2 linked regions of the Homo sapiens genome follow. The protein of the gene in region 2 interacts with the protein of the main gene of each other region in a pairwise test. Each region holds a gene or a part of one and is shown on either strand. Other genes may lie near its edges.

Region 1 (3,196 bases), on a different chromosome or scaffold from region 2:
CTTGCAGAGCACACAACCCCAGCCATGCCTCCCCATCTGCAGCCAGCATCTTCACAGCAGCAGCTCAAGATGGGTTGCCACTACCACCACAACCATGAGGCCTCAGCTGAGACAGCTCCTTTCTGTTCTGCCTAGCAGGACCTCCAGCTTGAAAGTATAGAAGGCAAGGCAGGGGCAAGATGTGCTCTATTACCCTTGAAATTTCATTCTAGAGCTGTGCAGTCCCATAGAACTTTCTGCAATGACTGAAATGCTCGATAGTCCTTACAAGCCACATGTAACTACTGAGCATTTGAAATGTGGCTAATGTGAGTGAAGAACTGCATTCTTCTTTTTTTTTTAATGTGAATTACATTTAAATAGTCACATGTGGTTGGTGGCTACTTATTTAACAGCACAGTTCAGCACAGCACAGTATTTGATAATGAAGAGGCCTCTTGAATGACGTCTTCTGGATCAGTACCTATCCCAGATAGGAGTAAACAATGCCCCCACCTCCCCGCCCGCCGACCAGCATTGCACCATCATTATCCATCGCCTGACTTTCAAAAGGGAAAGAATTTGGAAGGATGAGCCTATCCTCCTTGCTGAATATCCGATTCTTCACCGCCTTTCCCCCATATTCCTCCCTTTCTCCACATCCTGAGACTTCTCAGGAAGGGCCTAGACCTTTATTTGAAGGGACAGAATTGAGAAGGTTTGGAACTTACTGCCAAAAGGACCAAGCAAACATGCCCCTGGAGCATGTATAAATAAAGCACATATAAATGGAAAGCAGAATATGAAAAATGGCATTTCACTCTGTTTGCTGCTATGACAAAAATACATATGCAAATACAAAATACATATGCAAATACAAAATACATATGACAAAATACATATGACAAAAATACATAATTTTCTTAGATTAAGAAGTTACAGTAAATTTTCTTAGATGTGGATATATTATTGTGATTATGTAAGACAAGTTTCTTGTTTTTTGGGGATGCATGCTGGAAGATTTAGGAATAAAATGCCATGATATAATGTCAGTGTGTGTGTGTGTGTGTGTGTGTGCGCGCACGCATGCACGCATACATAATACACATATAGATGCATACATAGAGTAGGTAAATTGATGCATTGACAAATACATTGTTTAGATACATGTATTGCCTACATACATGCATAGATTAGATGGTAGATACATAGATGTAAATAAATGATAGGGCAAATTGTCTATAATTGTTGAATATTAGAGTGGGCATAGGGGTGCTCATAGGGAAAACATGATGGACAACAGAACTACTGCTAATAAAAACAGCTTTTATTACTGCTGAGTGGAGGCCTCTTAAGGCTAGTGTGAGAAGTGGGTGGGTGTTGCTTTACCAGCCCCTCCAATCAGGTGATGCGCCAGAGAGGCATCGAGGCAGGGCCAGGCAACGTCCACACAGGAGGGAGCAATCACAGGAAGGAGGAAGGAGCCACAGTCTGTATGGGCAGGACGGTAAGGACAATGGGCAGGATGGTATTAGATCTTCTCTATGCCATCTCCTTCCCACTCCTGCCTCATTCCAAGCCATACAGTAGTGGGCAGCCAGGCCAGAGCAGGGCCTGAGAGCCACTAAGACTGGCCAGGTGACAGTGGGAGGAAGGGCAAGGAAGGCAAAGCAGTCCTGAGTCCAGGGAATTCGGCTGTGGGGGCAAGTGGCCTGTGGGGACAAATAGAGAGAGCTTGGGGTTATTGCTCCCACCCCACCTCTCAAAGTCACTATGGGAGAGAGGCTGAGACATCAGTTTCCCACCCTGCATATACACACTTGAATCCCAGTCTCACATCCTTTACCTGCTATGGCTGTCAGTGATACCATAGACTCAGGGGTTACTAGTCTCCGTAATTTTGTGGACCATGCAAAGAATGAGGAAAGCTGTATTGAGATTCCTTTGATGACCCCCAATGGAGATCCATGCCCTCCTGGAGGTTGAGTCAGTCGACCCTCCCTACATCCTGCAGGACTGAGGCCTGGCCTGAATTCTTACCCCAGCAGGGCTTGAGACAGGCTTTAGGTGGGGTGTCACTCAGACACCTTTCTGGTGCTGTTGCCCAGCACAGCTGATAGCAGGAGGGACCCAGTGGTTCCAGGGCAGGCAGGGCTGCTGTGGGCACACTGCCAGGGGACTGCTAAAAAAAAAAAGCAAGAGAAGAACCTTAGCTTCCAGTGATGCCTCCTGTAGAGAACGCCGGGACCCCAGAGCTGCCTGCCACCCAAGTAGTATCCTGCACAACTCCAGAGGGCACCATTCACATAGTAGACTTTGGGTTAGTACTTTCTTGACATGAACACTGTGGGGCCCTGGAGAGCCGGAGATCCTGGCTCAGGCCAGAAATGGAAGAGCCCATGAGCCCTTCAGTCTTCCCAGGGCACAGACTCCCCTCTCCTCCCGAGTACCTGTGCAGAGATGATTCCTGGGGCAACCCTTGGTACAGTCAGCCCCTGGGAAGCACCTATAAAATGAGAGTGAATCCACTCAGAAGGAGGAATTGGGGTTAGGGACGGGAGGAGTGTGGTGAGAGGCAGGAAGGTTGGATACAAAGAGGTTCTAGGAAAGTCAGCCACTTCTTGCAGGGGTGTGAAGAGATGGATATTTTAACCCAAAACTGTCCTCTTCCCCAAGACAGGTCCTTGGGAAACTGGAGAAGAATGATTAAATTCCAGTGATGGTACTGGGGACAGTGCAGCCTTAAGATCCGGGACTGTGTGTGCCCAGCATCTAGCACAGGGTCTGGCACTGGGGAGATGCTGAGTAAATATTGGATGGATGGGTGGATGGATGCACAGATTAATGGAAAGATGGATGGATGGATGGATGCATGGGTGCATGGGTGGCTGGATGGATGCATGGGCGGATGCATGGGTGGATGGATGGATGAATGCATGAGCAGATGCATGGATGGATGCATGAATGAATGGGTGGATGGATGGATGGATGGATGGATGGATGGATGGATGGATGGATAAATGGATAGGTAGATAGGTGGGTGAGCAGATGGGTGGGTGACTGGCTGGCTGGATGGATGGATAGATGGGTGGATGGATAAATGGATGGATGGAGAGATGGATGCATGGATAGATGGGTGGATAAATGGGTAGCTGGGTGGATGGGTGGGTGTGGTGGGTGGATGATGCCTGGATGAATGGATGGATGGATAGATGAA
Region 2 (4,124 bases):
CAAAATGACACCAAGAGGTTGGTGCTGTCATCTTCATTTTTCAGAGATGAGGAAACAGACTGAGAAATGTAGAATGACTTGCTAAGGTCACAGAGCTCATTCAGCAGAGCCAAGAGGCAAACCCAGGTCTCCCCAACAGCAGAGCCCGATGTGCTCCTGACCTCCACGCTGGGCTGCTCCTAGCTAAGAAAGGCACCCCCGGCCGGGCGCGGTGGCTCACGCTTGTAATCCCAGCACTTTGGGAGGCCGAGGTGGGTGGATTACCTGAGGTCAGGAGTTCGAGACCAGCCTGACCAACATGGAGAAACCTCGTCTCTATTAAAAATACAAAATTAGCCGGGCATGGTGGCGCATGCCTGTAATCCCAGCTACTTGGGAGGCTGAGGCAGCAGTGAGCCGAGATCATGCCATTGCACTCCAGCCTGGGCAACAAGAGCAAAACTCCATCTCATAAAAGAAAGAAAGAAAGAAAGGCACCCCAGAGGCTGGGTCACATGCTCTCTGTGGTACCATGCAGCAGGCATCTTGGGTGGGACTCTACACACGCTCTTTGCAGCCACATTAGTCCTACCTCCTTTGATGCTTTCTGCTTTTTTTTTTTTTTTTGAGACGGAGTTTTGCTCTTTTGCCCTGTTACCCAGGTTGGAGTTCAGTGGCACGATCTCGGCTCACTGCAACTTCTGCCTCCCAGGTTCAAGTGATTGTTGTGCCTCAGCCTCCCGAGTAGCTGGGACTACAGTCGCCCACCTCCAAGCCTGGGTAATTTTTGTATTTTTAGTAGAGACAGGGTTTCACCATATTGGCCAGGCTTGTCTCGAACTCCTGACCTCCACTGATCTGCCCACCTCAGCCTCCCAAAGTGCTGGGATTACAGGAGTGAGCCACCATGCCAGCCCTTTGATGCTTTCTTGACTTGACTTCCTAGGCCCCTATGGCGAAGCAGAAAAGGAGGTGGGAATGGGGCAGCAGTAGCTAAAGTACCCAGTCAATGTCTCCCTGTCTGTCATCATCTGGGTCAATCCGATACTTAAACATCCTTCCTGTTCCAGAACAGCATCTGACCTAGACCCGTGTTTGTCCCCCTTACCCCACCCCAGTGTATTCTTGAGAAATACGCATTGTGAGGGGATGGCACTCGCACATCCACCCAACTCCCCCAACCCCCACTGAGAATCACTGAATGATCCAGCTCACGGTCATCACAAACGAGCAGAGGTAACAGGGCACAAACTCTTCTTTGAACTAAAAAATCCAACCAAAGTTAGTTCTGTTGTCATTCCTGAGAACCACGGAAAGGATCCTGGCTGGGCTGTATGGGCCTCCGCGCATGTGGGAGAGGTCAAGCTCCTCCACCCTTCAACGCCAATGTCAGCTATGTGTCCTTATGCCACCAAGAAGCCCCCTTCCTCTTCCGGGGCCTGAGGTTTTCCCAACTGATGGCGAAGCTATTCCTATATGTGTCATCTCTGTCCTACTAGAACATAACTGGCCTGTATTTTAGACAACTTGGTAATCCCAGTGCCCAGCACAGGGTTTGGTACAGAATAAGTGCTAATGTTTGATGAATGAATGAATGAATGAATGGAGTAGATTAACACCAGGAACCATGAGGCTCCTGAGCAGCACCTGATGAAAGATCCCCCACACTGAAAACAGAATCCAGAATCGTTGTCTCACTTGGGCAGTATTATTCCCATCAATTTTTTCAACAAATATGGCCTGGCTGTCTACTACAAGCCGGGCCCTGTGAAAAGTCCTGTGGGGATACAGACACGGTCTCTTGTTTTCAAGGACCACCCAGTTCGGCAAGTGGAGGTAAGTCATGGACAAACATGGTGGCAATGCTCAGTGGCGAGCTATCCAGCACGTCAGAAGTCCAGCCCACGTGCTGAGGAAGTCCCAAAGAGAGCAAGATCACTTCTGTCTGGGTGCTGCTCTTGGAAGGCCTCATGGTCTTCCAAGACCCCCATCTGACCTCTGACCCTTGGCAGCCAACCTTCCCCAGGCCACCCCAGAGCTTGCTGGCCCTTCCCACTTATGCACGCCGCCTGGGCAGGAGAGGTCACTCACTCTGTGTCAGGGTGACCGTGGCTGCGGCTGCGGTGGCCGAGGGTCCGAGGGCCACAGGGTGGATCTCTGTGGTGCTGGGCAGGCTGATGATGGTGGCCTCGCCCAGCAGGTTGCAGATACGTTGTTGCATGGGGGTCAGCAGCACTGGGGCTACAGCTGGGCCACCGCCACCACTGCCACCGCCTGTCCCAGGCCCCCCAGCTCCGTCCTCCTCAGTGGGCCCCGGCGCCTCACCACCCTCCACGGCGGCCCGGACCTGGGCAACCTTGCGACGGACCTCGGTCTTGAGGTCAGACCACTTCTTCTTGACCTCAGGCAGCTCTCTGCGGCAGGTGGCCACGGCGTTGACCCTTCTCAGGATGCCGTGCCAGGCCGCACTCTTGGCGGCCAGGGGTACCCCGGCGTTGAAGTGGTTCACCAGCAGGTGCTTCTTCAGCTCCAGCTCCTCCACGATGATCTCCACCTCCCGCTCTGAGAAGTTCATCTTCCTTTTCTTGGCTGGGACGGCCATGGCCTCTCCCCTCCCCTCTTTTTAAAGAAATTATAATCCCCTCAAGCGCCCCAATTCCCCTTCTCTTCTTCCTCAGCCTCGCCCCTCACCCACCCCCTACAGGGGATAGGCCAGGCTTGCTCGAGGCCAAGCACTAGGCCTTTGGTAACCCCCCTCGCTACGCAAAGTGCGTAGGGCCCAGCCCCGACCGGCCCGGCCGCTGCCAGCCAGCAGCGTAATGGCTTCCTGAATCTGCCTCTTCCGCCGAGGTGTGCGGAGATCCGCCCACTTCCCCTCTTCCCGCCTCCCAGCGCTTCTCCGGGAAAACCGGCCTTCCCGGTTGGTAGCTGCTCAAATATCACGTCGATCACTGGTTCTTTCGATCTGTCGCTCAGCTAAAGAGCACGCCTGCTTACTGTAATTCGCCTGATCATTGGTCTAAAATTGTGTCCGTCGCCCAGAGGGCCCCGCCCACCTAACCTTTATTCACTTCCATTGGAAAATCATTCTGTCGTTCAATTGTCAGTATTACGACTATTAAGCCGTTAAATTCAGCTATTTTATTGGTGGTTTAGGGAGTTAGATTACCAAAACCCTGCTTCCTGAGGATACTTAGTGCTTTCGGCCGTGACCCATGGGTCAATTAACTTTTAATTCCTCCCACCGGCACAAACTCTGCCTCGCAACTGCAGTTCACAAATGCTCTCACACAAATCCTGTTTCCCACTGGAGGCTACGATCTCTCCGTACACTACCGCTCCTCCCATCCTTAAGATCCCGCAGTCTAAACAGAGTTAGTTCATCAATGGAAACTGGACACGGGGCCTTCCGCCTGCCAATCACATTACTCATGCCTATCGCTGCGTGATTTTCTCTCTCTTGGCCCCCGGCTCAGCCAATCCCCGCCTCCCTCAGTTTGAATCGGCCCCAGGCGGAGCCGGGTGACCCCGCCCACCCCATTGATCCGGGTAGTCCGTGGCGCGTGGGCTGTCCTTAGACAGGCTCCGCCCCTCCCTCCTCCCCATCCGAGCCTGTGACTGGCCTTCGGTGCGCCCGGGCGTGGCCGGCGAAGCGGGGCGCGGAGGGGCGGGGCTCCCGGAAGCCGCCCCTTCCGCCAGCTTGCCGGCGTCTCCGAGCCCGCGCTCCCAGCTGCAGAGCGCCTGGCTTGCCTCCCGCGCGGTCACCGCCGGCCCGCCGCCCCCGCTCCCGCCCGCGCCCGGAGCCCCTGCCTCGCGCCCGATGGTGAGCAGTGTGTTGTGCCGCTGTGTGGCCTCCCCGCCGCCGGACGCCGCCGCCACCGCCGCCTCTTCGTCTGCCTCATCGCCGGCGTCCGTGGGGGACCCCTGCGGCGGCGCTATCTGCGGGGGCCCGGACCACCGGCTGCGCCTGTGGAGACTCTTTCAGACGCTCGACGTCAACCGGGACGGCGGCCTGTGTGTCAACGACCTGGCGGTGGGGCTGCGGCGCCTGGGACTGCACCGCACCGAGGGCGAGCTCCAGGTAGGCTGCGCGCGTCCTCAGCACTGGCGGGGAGGGAGCCCCTCGAGGGCCGGGTGACAGGTCT

What was found.
Region 1: the proteins of NAIF1 (region 2) and PAX4 interact in a two-hybrid assay, tested with the Homo sapiens proteins (one large-scale study listed by BioGRID).

What each region holds. Positions count from the first base shown.
Region 1 is NC_000007.14:127,609,516-127,612,711, forward strand, and holds the end of PAX4 (paired box protein Pax-4), read right to left. Parts: intron 2,486-3,196; coding exon 2,430-2,485; intron 2,162-2,429; coding exon 2,020-2,161; intron 1,692-2,019; coding exon 1,549-1,691; 3' UTR 1,471-1,548; coding exon of another isoform or gene 1,337-1,470; 3' UTR 777-1,336; downstream 1-776.
Region 2 is NC_000009.12:128,064,521-128,068,644, forward strand, and holds the start of NAIF1 (nuclear apoptosis-inducing factor 1), read right to left. Parts: upstream 2,801-4,124; 5' UTR 2,582-2,800; coding exon 2,071-2,581; intron 1-2,070. Other genes in the region: mitochondrial adenyl nucleotide antiporter SLC25A25, read left to right, coding at 3,800-4,060. UniProt on the Homo sapiens protein: Induces apoptosis.